2 linked regions of the Homo sapiens genome follow. The protein of the gene in region 1 interacts with the protein of each later gene in a biochemical or structural test. Each region holds a gene or a part of one and is shown in the gene's direction. Other genes may lie near its edges.

Region 1 (6,838 bases):
CTGGGATTATAGGTGTGAGCCACTGCCTCTGGCCTGATCCTCACCCTCTTTAATGGAGACTCACTCTAGAAGATAAATATTCCCTTTCTTACTAAAAATTAGGTCACATCTCATAACATAATTTTATGAATTTATTTTAAAAAACAAAAGTAAACAAAATTTTCCCTTTGAAGAAAAGGGTGAACAGAACAAGAAAGCAAAAGGGATAAAAATGAGTAAATGTCCAACAATGATAGTCTGGATTAAGAAAATGTGGCACATATACATCATGGAGTACTATGCAGCCATAAAAAATGATGAGTTCATGTCCTTTGTAGGGACATGGATGAAGCTGGAAACCATCATTCTCAGCAAATGATCGCAAGGACAAAAAACCAAACACCGCATGTTCTCACTCATAGGTGGGAATTGAACAATGAGAACACTTGGACACAGGAAGGGGAACATCGCACACCGGGGCCTGTTGTGGGGTAGGGGGAGGGGGGAGGGATAGCATTAGGAGATATATCTAATGTAAATGACAAGTTAATGGGTGCAGCACACCAACATGGCACATGTATACATATGTAACAAACCTGCACATTGTGCACCTGTACCCTACAACTTAAAAGTATAAATATATATATATATATATATATATATATATATATATATATATAATGAGTACCTTGCCTATCCTGTTCCATATATAAAGCACAGCGTCCAGCACATAGTAGGTGCTTAGTAAACAGTAGTGAGGTGTTCAGGGCATGTGCCTTGGAATAAGATAATCCAGATTCACGTTCTGGGTACATTACTTGCTAACTCCTCTACCTAGGGCAAGTTACTTAAACATCGCAAGTCTCAGTTTCTTCGCTGAGAAAGTGGGGAGAGTAACAGTGCCTACTTTGTAGGATTACTGTGAAGATTAAACTAAATTGTCAATCTAAAATCCTTAGTGCATGAGCCAGGTATGGCAGCTTGTGTCTATAATCCCAGCTACTTAGGAGGTTGGGGTGGGAGAAATGCTTGATGCTAGGAGTTCTAGACCAGCCTGAGCAACATAAAAAAAAAAAAAAACAATAAACCCCATCTCTTAAAAAAAAAAGAAATTAAAATTTAAAAATTAGCCAGGCATGGTGGCACATGCCTGCAGTCCCAGCTACTTGGGAGTCTGAGGTGGGAAGATCCCTTGAGCTCGAATTTGTGGCTGCAATGAACAATGATCACCTGGATGACAGAACAAGACCCCATCTCTTAAAGAAAACTGTTAGTGTCTAACACGTTATAAATATTTTATTATTGTTATTTACATACTTCAGCCTACCAAAACTCCTGTTTTCCATGGAGAAAACAGATCTGTTGATAACTCTGCAGTTTCCAGAAACACTGTGATTAGCAGAATGAGAAAAATGCCAGGAGAACTCAGAAGAGAAAGTCACTAGGAAGACTTAATCTCATCAGGTGATGCCAGAATCCAGAGGTTGTAATCTAGGACTTTGCCCAGGCATGCTTTGGGGCACAGTGGTGGGGAGGGAGCTGTTGCAAAGATGGGGCAAGAATGGTCTGGACATGACTCAGACACTTTAAAGTGAAAGAATGGGAAATTGTCTGGCAGCTGGTACTTACCATGGGCAGTCAGCACTCCTCTGACTGATTCACCTTCACCAGGGCACCAGCCTGCAGTGAAGTAGCTGGGGCTGGTTCCTTTTAGTGACACCCACCACCCCTTGCCCTTCCAGGTATTGTCCACAGATGACACCTCCTCCTCCTCCTCCTGCTCCTCCTCCTGCTCTGCCTCCTCCTCCTCCCCCTGCTCCTGCTTCTCCTCCTCTTCCTCCTGCTCCTTCTCCTCCTCCTCCTGCTCCTCCTCCTGCTCTTCCTCCTCCTCCTGCTCTTCCTCCTCCTCCTCCTGCTTCTCCTCCTCTTCTTCCTCCTGCTCTTTCTCCTCCTCTTCCTGCTCCTCCTCTCCTTCTGCTCCTCCTGCTTCTCCTCCTCCTGCTCCTCCTCCTCCACCTGCTCCTCCTCCTTCTCCTCCTCCTGCTCCTCCTCCTTCTGCTCCTTCTTCTCCTGCTCCTCTTCCTCCTGCTCCTGCTTCTCCTCCTTTCTCCTGCTCCTCCTCCTCCTGCTCCTCCTCCTGCTCCTCATCCTCCTTCTCCTCCTGCTCCTCCTTGTCCTCCTCTGCCCTTGATATTCACTTTGACCAGATTACACCAGTACAGAGAGTCCAAAGGTTAAATAGGCACACACTCACACACAAACTCACACTGGGCTAGAACAATGACAGAGCGTCCTGGGGGAGCAGAGTGGGGGCCGGGGGGAGGGGGAAAGGAGGATTGCAGGCCTAACTTTCACAAATCACCTGAAATTTCCACTGAAGGCATTATCTCCAAATGTTGCCACAGAGATAAACTGCCAGGATTACAAGAAAACGTGAAGACGTTCCCATAGAACTCTGTAATGCTTATATCCATCACCAGGAATGTCTGCCCTTGGCGCCCTAAACATAGATTGATTGATTGATTGATTGATTGATTTTGAGGCAGAGTCTCACTCTGTCACCCAGGCTGGAGTGCAGTGGTGCGATCTCAGCTCACTGCAACCTCCTCCTTCCGGGTTCAAGGGATTCTCCCACCTCAGCCTTGGAGTAGTTGGGATTACAGGCTCCTGCCACCACGCCCGGCTAATTTTTGTATTTTTTGTAGAGACTGGGTTTTGCCATGTTGGCTAGGCTGGTCTCAAACTCCTGACCTCAAGCGATCCTCTTGCCTCAGCCTTCCAAAGTGCTGGGATTACAGGCGTGAGCTACGGTGCCTGGCCCTAAATATAGATATTTTTAATAAATCCTCTACTTATCTCACAACGAGCTCAATCGCTTTGCATTAGATCGTTGGGTGTGTTAAAAGTATTCATGTGTTACATTAAATGTGAATTCAACAAAAGCAGAGATTTTTGTGTTTTGTTCTTCATTGTATCCCTTGATTGTAGAAAAGTGGCACATAGTAGGTGCTCAGTTAATCGTTGTTAAATGAAGACATAAATGAAATATAAACCATTAAATGTCCACCATATTTGTAAGCGTTTTGGCATGTCTTCATTGAAAGAATACCAGGCAGCTGGGAGCCATAGTTTACTCCGGTAATCCCAGTGCTTTGGGAGGCTGCAGGTGAGAGGATCGCTTGAGACCAGGAGTTCAAGAGCCACCAGGGCAACATAGAGAGACCTTGTCTCTACAAAAACAAAACAAAACAAAACAAAAAACAAAAAACACAATTCCCTTAAGCCGCCCCTTCCCCTTCCACTGCTCAGAGAAGGCCTTCCAGCAGAGCAGAGCACGAGGTCGCTGGCACACACCCATCCTCCACCAGTCCTGGCCTCTGTAGAGCAAGCCAGCAGAGCAGGCTGTTTCTCTCATTCAGGGACGGTTTAGGGGGTGGCAGGAAAAAATGGTTGCTGATAGGCGAAGGGCCTCCCTGGGTTGGAGAGAACCCCAGCCTCGGATGGTCCCAGCACATTTAAAAGAGAAGCAGTGCCAAAGGTGGGGTGCACTGAAAGCTGCTGGATGAAGGGAAAGATCCTTGTGCTCAGCCCGGAAAACCGGAGGATGGATACCAGGCCGAGGGGTCCCTCCGTGCCCCAAGAGAAAGTTCACCAAGTTTAGATCCCAGTGCCCCGCAGCGGGTGAAGGTGGTCCCGCCCCAGGCCGGATCTGGCCACAGGGCTGGCGGCGCGCTGGAAAACCGCCCACGTGGGAAGAAGCCCTGGCTGCATTTCCGCCCTGGACTGCGCTCCCGCCTGCCAGCGCGGTCCCTGCGCAGCCGCCCCGCGCCCACTAGGTGGCGCCTGCGCTCTAGTGGGCGCTTCACAGGCGCAGCGACAGCGACAGCGACAGCTCGAACCTGAGTCCCAGGATTCCGGGGACTGGAGGGCAGCGCCGGCAGCCAAGGTAGGATTCCTGAGCCCCGGGCGTCTCCCTGGAGCCTCTGAGGTCGGGGTGGACAGCGGGGCGGCCGCTGGGCACCGCTTGCGGTCTGCAGAGATAACCGGAGGAGTCGGGGCGGCAGCACGTGTTGTAGCCGTGGGGGGGACCCAGAGACCCGCAGCCTCGGAGCTGGGCCTAGAGCAAGGCAGAGCACCAGGTCGCTGGCACGCTCGCATCCTCCCCAGCCCTCGCCTCCCAGAGCATGCCCGAATCCCCAAGCCGGGCGTCCTCGAAGCGGAAAGCAGCCACTGTCGCCCAGAGCCACTCCAGGGTGGCAGCCGAGTGCTGATAAGGTCCAGAGCACCACTTCTTAAACTTGTCTGCCCGTTGGCGTTGCTTGGGAAGCATTAAAAAAATACCGATGCCCTAGTTCCACCCCCGCCCCCCCCCAGAGACTCAGATGTGATTGGTCTGGGTGGGGGACTGGACATCTGGGTATTAAAATGTTTGCAAGAGATTCCAGCTGGCAGCCAAATTTGAGGACCCTTGATCTAAGGAGTTGGAGAAAAACGGAGGACATTTGTTTGTTCTAACCCAGAATGCTGATGATTCCCTCCTCCTCCTATTCCTCCAGTTCGCCCTCCTCCTCCTTTCTCATGTGCCTTTTAAGCAGGAAATGCCTCTGCCTTTGTACTGTCAAACCCAAGATAACAAACTAACCATCCCCCACCCCCCACAGTAGGGCTGGTTCTGAAAGGGTTGAACTCGAAAGTGGACAAGGAACAGAAAGACACCAGTGTGGAATGTGAGCGAAGACTCTTAGGGGTTTATGGGTAGGAAGGGGGTTCCTCCCCACCCTGATCCCAGAGAAGATCAGGAGACTGGCTGGAGCTGTCTTCCTCATTTTGGCAAACCTAGCTGATTAGGCAGTGAGAGGCCTTATAACGAGCCTTTTTTACAACTAGTAAAAGGGCCCTTTTACAACTAGTAAAAATGAGCCCTTATGTTTGTTTGTTTTATAGAGATAGGGCCTCACTATATTCCCCAGGATGGTCTCAAACTCCTAGGCTCAAGCCATTCTCCAGCCTCGGCCTCCCAAAGTGCTGGGATTATAGGCATGAGCCGCTGCGCCCCGCTGACCCCTTATGTTTATATAACAGCAGTGTTACTAACATGGGCATAGATTCCCCCCCATAGGCAGCCCTTCCTTTGTGACCTTGGAAACTCACTGAACCATCCTCAGCTTCAGTTTTTGTATCTGCAAAATGGGTGTGAAAATCGGGTTGCCTTGGGAATTATTCACAATAAAAGCTACTGTTTACTAAGGGTTCACCCTATGCTAGAGGCTTTCTGTGCAGGGCCAAGTTAGACTCCTGACCATAACTTCCACGGTAGAACTATGAATACTGCATTTGATAGCCAAGGAAACTGAGGCTCAGAGAGGCCAATGATCTTGCTCGAAGTTATATAATTAATTAATAAGAAGCATGTCCCATATTTGAACCCAGGCAGTCTGCTCTTGAGCTCAGGTGCAAAAGAACAATACTCTGCTGTTTCCCTTGTTGACCAGGACAGCGTGCACGGGGCAGGCGCGTGGTGTGTCTTCACAAACACTAGCTATCACTGCTGTGAGCTGAGCACTTCCACTGAATTGACTCATTCGCTCATTGGAAATACATTTATTATTGAGAGCCTACTGTGGGCCAGGCAGTTTTCCAGATGCTAGAGATAAAATATGAGTAAGACAGAATTCAGCCAGCCCCGAATGAGAGAAACAGGAAGAAAGTGCAGTAGATTCTCATTATTCACAAGTTCTAAATTTGCAAATTCTTCCCTGTAATCCCAGCACTTTGAGAGGCTGAGGCAGGAGGATCGCTTGAGGCTAGGAGTTTCAGATCAGCCTGTGCAACAGAGCAAGGCCCTGTTTGCTTAAAAATTATACACATTGAATAATTCTTAAAAAAAATTTGTTTGTGGCCAGGCATGGTGGCTCATGCATATAATCCCAGTACTTTGGGAAGCTGAGGCAGAAAGATTACTTGAGGCTAGGAGTTCCAGATCAGCCTGGGTAACACAGTAAGACCCTATATCTTTATTTTAAAAATTATATAATTAAAGAATTTTTAAAAAAATATGTTTGTGGCCGGGTGTGGTGGCTCACACCTGTAATCCCAGCACTTTGGGAGACTGAGGTGTGAGGTTAGGAGTTTGAATTTAGGAGTTTGACACCAGCCTAATCACTTGAGCTAAGGAGTTTGAGACCAGCCTGGACAGCATAGAGAGACCTTGGCTCATTTAAAAAAAAAAAGAGGAAAAAAGGCCGGGTGCAGTGGCTCATGCCTGTAATCCCAGCACTTTGGGAGGCCGAGGTGGGTGGATACCTGAGGTCAAGAGTTCGAGACCAGCCTGGCCAACATGGCAAAACCCCGTCTCTACTAAAAATTCAAAAAATTAGCTGGGCGTGGTGGCAAGAGCCCGTAATCCCAGCTGCTTGGGAGGCTGAGGCAGGAGAATTGCTTGAACCTGGGAGGTGGAAGTTGCAGTGAGCCAAGATCACGCCATTGTACTCCAGCCTGGGCAACAACAGCGAAACTCCATCTCAAAAAAAAAAAAGAAAGAAAAAAGAAAAATAATGTCTGCGTAACTTCCAAATCAATATCCATGACACTTTCACAGTCATATATGGATGCACGTAGAATAGTGAAAAAGTTGAGTCACCCAACGTGCACATTTCCAGCCAAGGGCAAACAGGAGGACACGCTGCTTTCTGGTTTCAGCTCTTGTGCTATAAACAAGTGTCCCTTTTGTGGTGTACTTAGTGCCACATTTTTTGCATGTTTGTGTGTTTTTGTTTGTGATGTCGCTGTTTGAAATGGCCCCAAGTGTACAGTTGACGTGCTGTCTAGTGTTCCTAAGTATGAGAAGGCTGCGATGTGC
Region 2 (7,026 bases), on another chromosome or scaffold:
CATTTTCCCCGGCTCTCCCACACATGTAATCCCTTCTGAGCATGTTGGCTTCAAATAATATGGCCAGCCACCTCTTCCACCACGAGATCTTCAGGAAATGGCAGGCCACTGGGTTTACATGCAGATGGCATGGGAGCACACAAGGCACGGCTGTGGGGAGTTGGCACTTGCTCCAGAATATGGAGCACCGAGTGAAGGTTTCAGTTTCCTGCACTGAGAGAAACAAGGGCATTCCGAGGCTTTTCCACTTTATCCCTAAAGAGTTTCACAACGCTTGTTTGCCGATTTCTACATAGATGCCACCTTTCTGAGTTGTATGTATTTACATGCCAAATGTATTCATTGAGCAGCGTTAAATAATGGTGTTCACCCCTAAAGTGCATATACTGGTAAAATTAAGAATGATCGTAATTAAGCCTCTTGCAATAGTCATTAGTTCAGAGAATATTTAAGAATATTAAAGGTGCTTTGCTAATGTCCTCGTTAGTTTTGTTTTGACAAAATCAGTACTTCAGTTTCTTGTTTCTTTTTTTTTTGAGACGGAGTCTTACTCTCGCTCTGTCGCCCAGACTGGAGACTGGAGTGCAGTGGCACGATCTTGGCTCACTGCAACGTCCACCTCCCAGGTTCAAGCGATTCTCCTGCCTCAGCCTCCCGAGTAGCTGGGGTTACAGGCACACACTATGCCTGGCTAATTTTTTTTTTTTTTTTGAGACGGAGTCTCGCTCTGTCACCCAGGCTGGAGTGCAGTGGCGCAATGTCGGCTCACTGCAAGCTCTGCCTCCTGGGTTCACGCCATTCTCCTGCCTCAGCCTCCCGAGTAGCTGGGACTACAGGCGCCCGCCACCACACCCAGCTAATTTTTTTGTATTTTTAGTAGAGACGGGGTTTCACCATGCTGGCCAGGCTGGTCTCGAACTCTTGACCTCAGGTAAACCACCCACCTCAGCCTCCCAAAGTTCTGGGATTACAGGCGTGAGCCACCATGCCCAGCCCAGTACTTCAGTTTCTTAGCGATGAAATCCACCCAATGTCAGGCGATGACTATTATTATTTTACTGATTTATACTGTTTGTTCTCTATTAATGTCTTATTTTCCCCAACCGATTTTGAAGTTGAGTAAGGACTATGTTCCGCGGGTATCTTGAGTCCTCTGAGGCACTGAGCTTGGTGATTTGGACGCAGGAGCTGCTCATTAGTGAGCTGATAGCTGGGAGCATAGCGCATCCCACATCACCTGACTTACCTTGGTGTCCTCCTTTGTAGCCTTTTGTCATACATGATATGGAGACACTGTGTATGGCTGAGAAGACGCTGGTGGCCAAGCTGGTGGCCAATGGCATCCAGAACAAGGAGGCGGAGGTCCGCATCTTTCACTGCTGCCAGTGCACGTCAGTGGAGACCGTCACGGAGCTCACGGAATTCGCCAAGGCCATCCCAGGCTTCGCAAACTTGGACCTGAACGATCAAGTGACATTGCTAAAATACGGAGTTTATGAGGCCATATTCGCCATGCTGTCTTCTGTGATGAACAAAGACGGGATGCTGGTAGCGTATGGAAATGGGTTTATAACTCGTGAATTCCTAAAAAGCCTAAGGAAACCGTTCTGTGATATCATGGAACCCAAGTTTGATTTTGCCATGAAGTTCAATGCACTGGAACTGGATGACAGTGATATCTCCCTTTTTGTGGCTGCTATCATTTGCTGTGGAGGTGAGTGGTTGATTTAATCTGCTGGTATCATGTCACTGACAGGCTCCTGTCTTGAAAAATTTGACAATGGGAAATCCAGTACCAGCCTGAGCTGTTCCAGTGGAGGGGACACTCACATGGTGGGAAGACGTCTGACCCCCAGTCACTGCTGAGAATTCAGTGGGAATTATAACAATATTGTATAATATTATAGTATATATTGTTATTATCTATAAATACATATTTAATATTATGTAAATGTATGACATTTTAATCATAATATTAGCCAGGTGTGGGGGTGCACACCTTTAGTCCCAGCTACTTACTCAGTAGACTGAGGCAAAAGGATCTCTTGAGCCCAGGAGTTCAGGTTGCAATGAGTTATGAATGCACCACTGCACTCTAGCCTGGGCAACAGAACAAGACCTATTTCTTTAAAAAAAAATTATATATTTTGCACAAATATATATATAGAGAAAAAGAGGTCGGACATGGGCCTGTAATCCCAGCCCTTTGGGAGGCTGAGGTGGGTGGATCACTTGAGCCCAGGAGGTTGAGACCAGCCTGGGCAACATGGCAAGACCCCGTCTCTACAAAAAAAAAAATAGAAAAAATTAGTCAAGTATGGTGGCATGTACCTGTAGTCCCAGCTACTTGAGAGGCTGAGGTGGGAGGATCACTTAAGCCCAGGAGACAAAGGTTGCAGTGAGCCAAGGTCACGCCACCACACTCCAGCCTGGGCGACGAAGAATGACCCTGTCTCAAAAAAAAAAAAAAAAAAAATTATACACACACACACACACACACATTTCGTTTATATTATATCTAATATTATAAACAGATATAATTTATATATTATGATATTCCTGTATATATTATATAATGATGTTGTATTCATATTATAGACAATATTGTATGAAGTGCTATACAGATGTCAGTATAGTTGCTGTCACAGTTGGTTATGTTGATGAAAAGTATATTTCCTAATGCAAAATATAATATCAGTCAGCAGCCAAGTGGCAGTGACTGCAAGGTTTGCTTTGCCCGAGGAAGCAGATCCCAGGGAAGGCCGATCTGGTCCTCTCTGTGGAAGCTGGCTCTGCAGCCTCCACATTTTTGGCTCGGTGTCACGTTCCTTTAAATAGCCCCATCTCAGGTCTAGGAAGGTCATCCACCTACTGCAAACTCGGCTGACCTTACCCAGGGTTGGTGGAGACAGATGGGGTCTCCCACACTGCCTGCAGCCATACTGCGCCTGGGGGATTGACTCACTGTCAGCATGGAGCTGACTCAGCCCTACCAGCCGTGCCCGTTACTGTGTGGCTGGGCACAAGTCAGATGAAGGAAGTCCTTGCGCTCTGGCATAAAGTGTACAAAGACAAAGCAGTTATGCATAATTTGTCCTTTAGTATGGTCAGGATGTAGCATTGTGGGTAAAATGCAGTTGCAGAACTATTTATATGTAGCATGATCACAGTTTTATAAAGGAAATTATAATCCTATATCAATCCTATGTATATAGAAAAATGTCCAGTGAGATATATGTTAAACCTATTATGGTGGGATTAAAATTATGAGGGGGGATTTCTATTTTTCAAAAGATTCCTCCTTTTTTTTTTTTTTGAGACAGAGTCTCCGTCTGTCACCCTGGCTGGAGTGCAGTGGCACGATCTCAGGTCACTGCAACTTCCGCCTCCTGGGTTCAAGTGATTCGCCTGCCTCAGCCTCCTGAGTAGCTGAGATTACAGGAACATGCCAGCACACCTGGCTAATTTTTGTATTTTTAGTAAAGATGGGGTTTCACCATATTGGCCAGGCTGGTCTCAAACTCCTGACCCCGGGTGACCCACCCACCTCGGCCTCCCAAAGTGCTGGGATTACAGGCATGAGCCACTGCACCCGGCAATAATTCCTCTCTTTAGAGACTTAATAGTTATAGCCCCAGCCACTCTGGAGGCCGAGGCAGGAGGATTGCTTGAGCCTAGGAGTTCCAGTCCAGCCTAAGCAACAGAGCAAGACCCCATCACTAAAACAATACAAAAACAAGAATTTTAGAAATAAAAACTTAATAATTACATTTACAACCAAAAACAATGAAGATGTTTAAATCCTCATCACTAGCAACCCTGTTAAGAATCATAGTAATGACTGGGTCTGTAAGGGAGCACCGCCTGCTGAACATGGCTCAGGGCAGTATTTTCTGGACCAAGAATCAGGTCTCATGCTTTGAGACTGTCCCAGGATGTCTAGTGCCAGCTACCCCAGGCAGGTCATCTGGTGTGAATGTTGACTCTTCCTGCACCAAGTCTCAGACCTGCCCCACCCTCCTCCCCACTCTGGGTCTCCTGATCTTGGCTCACTGCAATCTCCGTCTCCCAGGTTCAAGCGATTCTCCCACCTCAGCCTCCCGAGTATCTGGGATTACAGGCGTGAGCCACCGTGCCTGGCCTACAAAACCTAGTTCTAACACAATCACTCCTTAAATATGGTGGAACACTTGAAGCTTGATATCTAGTTTGGATTCAAAAGCTTCATTTCCCATATTATGCAAAACTGGTGGTTGTGATCTCCAGAATGTACTGTTCCTCCTACTAGCTCTAATTTTTCTCCCTGACAGGTGGTCATCAGGTAAATCACAAGTGAAAAGGCCGCACCATAAGGTGTACTTAGGGCACTATTGCCGCCTAGTAGTATGAATATTTAGGAAAGAGTACTGGTCCTGTCTGTCCCTACTTCACCTATTGACTTTGGAAAAACCTATGTCTATCTTCCAGTCAAGTTGACAATATCTAAAGGCAGCTCAGTTTTTTTCTAAGAAAGGCCACATAAAATAGGCATGTTTGGTTCCTGAAACTGATAAGCAGTTCTTGGGTGATTATCACACTCAAACCTCTCTCTCTTCTTTCGAGACTAGATCGTCCTGGCCTTCTAAACGTAGGACACATTGAAAAAATGCAGGAGGGTATTGTACATGTGCTCAGACTCCACCTGCAGAGCAACCACCCGGACGATATCTTTCTCTTCCCAAAACTTCTTCAAAAAATGGCAGACCTCCGGCAGCTGGTGACGGAGCATGCGCAGCTGGTGCAGATCATCAAGAAGACGGAGTCGGATGCTGCGCTGCACCCGCTACTGCAGGAGATCTACAGGGACATGTACTGAGTTCCTTCAGATCAGCCACACCTTTTCCAGGAGTTCTGAAGCTGACAGCACTACAAAGGAGACGGGGGAGCAGCACGATTTTGCACAAATATCCACCACTTTAACCTTAGAGCTTGGACAGTCTGAGCTGTAGGTAACCGGCATATTATTCCATATCTTTGTTTTAACCAGTACTTCTAAGAGCATAGAACTCAAATGCTGGGGGTAGGTGGCTAATCTCAGGACTGGGAAGATTACGGCGAATTATGCTCAATGGTCTGATTTTAACTCACCCGATGTTAATCAATGCACATTGCTTTAGATCACATTCGTGATTTACCATTTAATTAACTGGTAACCTCAAAATTCGTGGCCTGTCTTCCCATTCACCCCGCTTTTGACTATTGTGCTCCTTTATAATTCTGAAAACTAATCAGCACTTTTTAACAATGTTTATAATCCTATAAGTCTAGATGTATCCAAAGGTGAAGTATGTAAAAAGCAGCAAAATATTTATTTCAAAGACTTCACTTCTGTTTCCTGAATCTAAAGAAAGACAACATGCTGCTTTTTAATCATAGGATGGAGAATTTTAAAGAACTGTTTGGGCCAGGCACAGTCGCTCATACTTGTAATCCCAGCACTTTGGGAGGCCGAGGCGGGTGGATCACAAGGTCAGCAGATCGAGACCATCCTGGCCAACATGGTGAAACCCTGTCTCTACTAAAAATACAAAAATTAGCCGGGTGTGGTGGCACATGCCTGTAATCCCAGCTACTCGGGAAGCTGAGGCAGGAGAATTGCTTGAACCAGGGAGTTGGAGGTTGCAGTGAGCTAAGACTGCACCACTGCACTCCAGCCTGGTGACAGAACGAGACTCTGTCTTAAAAACAAACAAACAAAAAAAAAATCTGTTAGATAAGCTATCAAAATGCAGCTGTTGTTTTGTTTTTGGCTCACTGTTTTCGTGGTTGTAACTAATATGTGGAAAGGCCCATTTCCAGGTTTGCGTAGAAGAGCCCAGAAAACAGAGTCTCAAGACCCCCGCTCTGGACTGTCATAAGCTAGCACCCGTGGTAAGCGGGACGAGACAAGCTCCCGAAGCCCGCCAGCTTCCTGCTCCACTCAGCTCCGTCCAGTCAACCTGAACCCACCCAGTCCAGCTGTCTGTGGGAATGGTGGTGTTCTTAGGGACAGACTGACACCTTACTTGTCAGTGTTCCTCCGGGCCCCATTTGGCAGCTCCCGTATCTTTTGTTATGTTGCTTTTAAAGATATGATGTTTTATTGTTTTAACTCTTGGTGACAGTAGATGCTCTCTGGAGCGCAGACGAGGCACATGTGTCTTCATAGCCTGGGCTGGGTGGGAGCCAGTCACCCTGCGGATCGAGAGAGGGGGTAGAGTCTTCTTCAAATGGCAGTTTTACTTCAAATGGCAGATTTCACAAGAGTTGGTTATTTTTTACAATGGTTTAGGTTGTTAAGTCTCCTTTGTATGTAAGGTAGTTTTTTCAACATCTAAAATTTTTGTTTTAGCCTTCAAAACCAACTTACCAACCTCAGTCCAGCTGGGAAGGCAGCGTTGATTATGGTAGTTTGTCAAGAATATATGGACCTGGAAACACTTTCTCTCTCTGTCCACCTGGTAGATAAATTGTCCTGTTGAGAATTTTTAGATCTGGACTGGAACTGCCAGGACCACCGCCTCCAGGGAGTCGCTGGGCACCTGGAGGTATCGTCGATGCCTCTCCCCCATCTTTAGAAAATTTGGCTCTTCTGAGGTCATTATTATTTTAAGAATGATTAGGATTGATAAGGGTCCCATGACCAGCATTATGAAAATGCGAGAGTGGGAAGGACACAGTGTGAGACTTCCACTAGAAAAAAGTGAAAGTTAGGGTTAGGACATCCTTTTTTAAAAATTACAAATTTAGTCCGTTTTGGTTTTTGTAATCAGGCTAGGCACAGTGGCTCACACATGGAATCCCAGCACTTTGGGAGGCCGAGGTGGGAGGATCACTTGAGCCCAGGAGTTCGAGACCAGCCTAGGCAACATAGCAAGACCCTGTCTGTACACAAAATTTAAAAATTAGTTCATCGGGGTGGCACACATCAGTAGTCCCAGCTACTCTGCAGGCTGAGGTGGGAGGATTGCTTGAACCCAGGAGGTCGAGGCTGCAGTGAGCTGTGAT

What was found. The genes of interacting proteins can lie anywhere in the genome.
Region 2: the proteins of CHD9 (region 1) and PPARA form a complex in vitro, tested with the Homo sapiens proteins (one study listed by BioGRID).

The regions. Positions count from the first base shown.
Region 1 is NC_000016.10:53,051,153-53,057,990, forward strand, and holds the start of CHD9 (chromodomain-helicase-DNA-binding protein 9), read left to right. Parts: upstream 1-3,838; 5' UTR 3,839-3,925; intron 3,926-6,838. UniProt on the Homo sapiens protein: Probable ATP-dependent chromatin-remodeling factor. Acts as a transcriptional coactivator for PPARA and possibly other nuclear receptors. Has DNA-dependent ATPase activity and binds to A/T-rich DNA.
Region 2 is NC_000022.11:46,230,526-46,237,551, forward strand, and holds part of PPARA (peroxisome proliferator-activated receptor alpha), read left to right. Parts: intron 1-1,266; coding exon 1,267-1,714; intron 1,715-4,607; coding exon 4,608-4,855; 3' UTR 4,856-7,026. UniProt on the Homo sapiens protein: Ligand-activated transcription factor. Key regulator of lipid metabolism. Activated by the endogenous ligand 1-palmitoyl-2-oleoyl-sn-glycerol-3-phosphocholine (16:0/18:1-GPC). Activated by oleylethanolamide, a naturally occurring lipid that regulates satiety.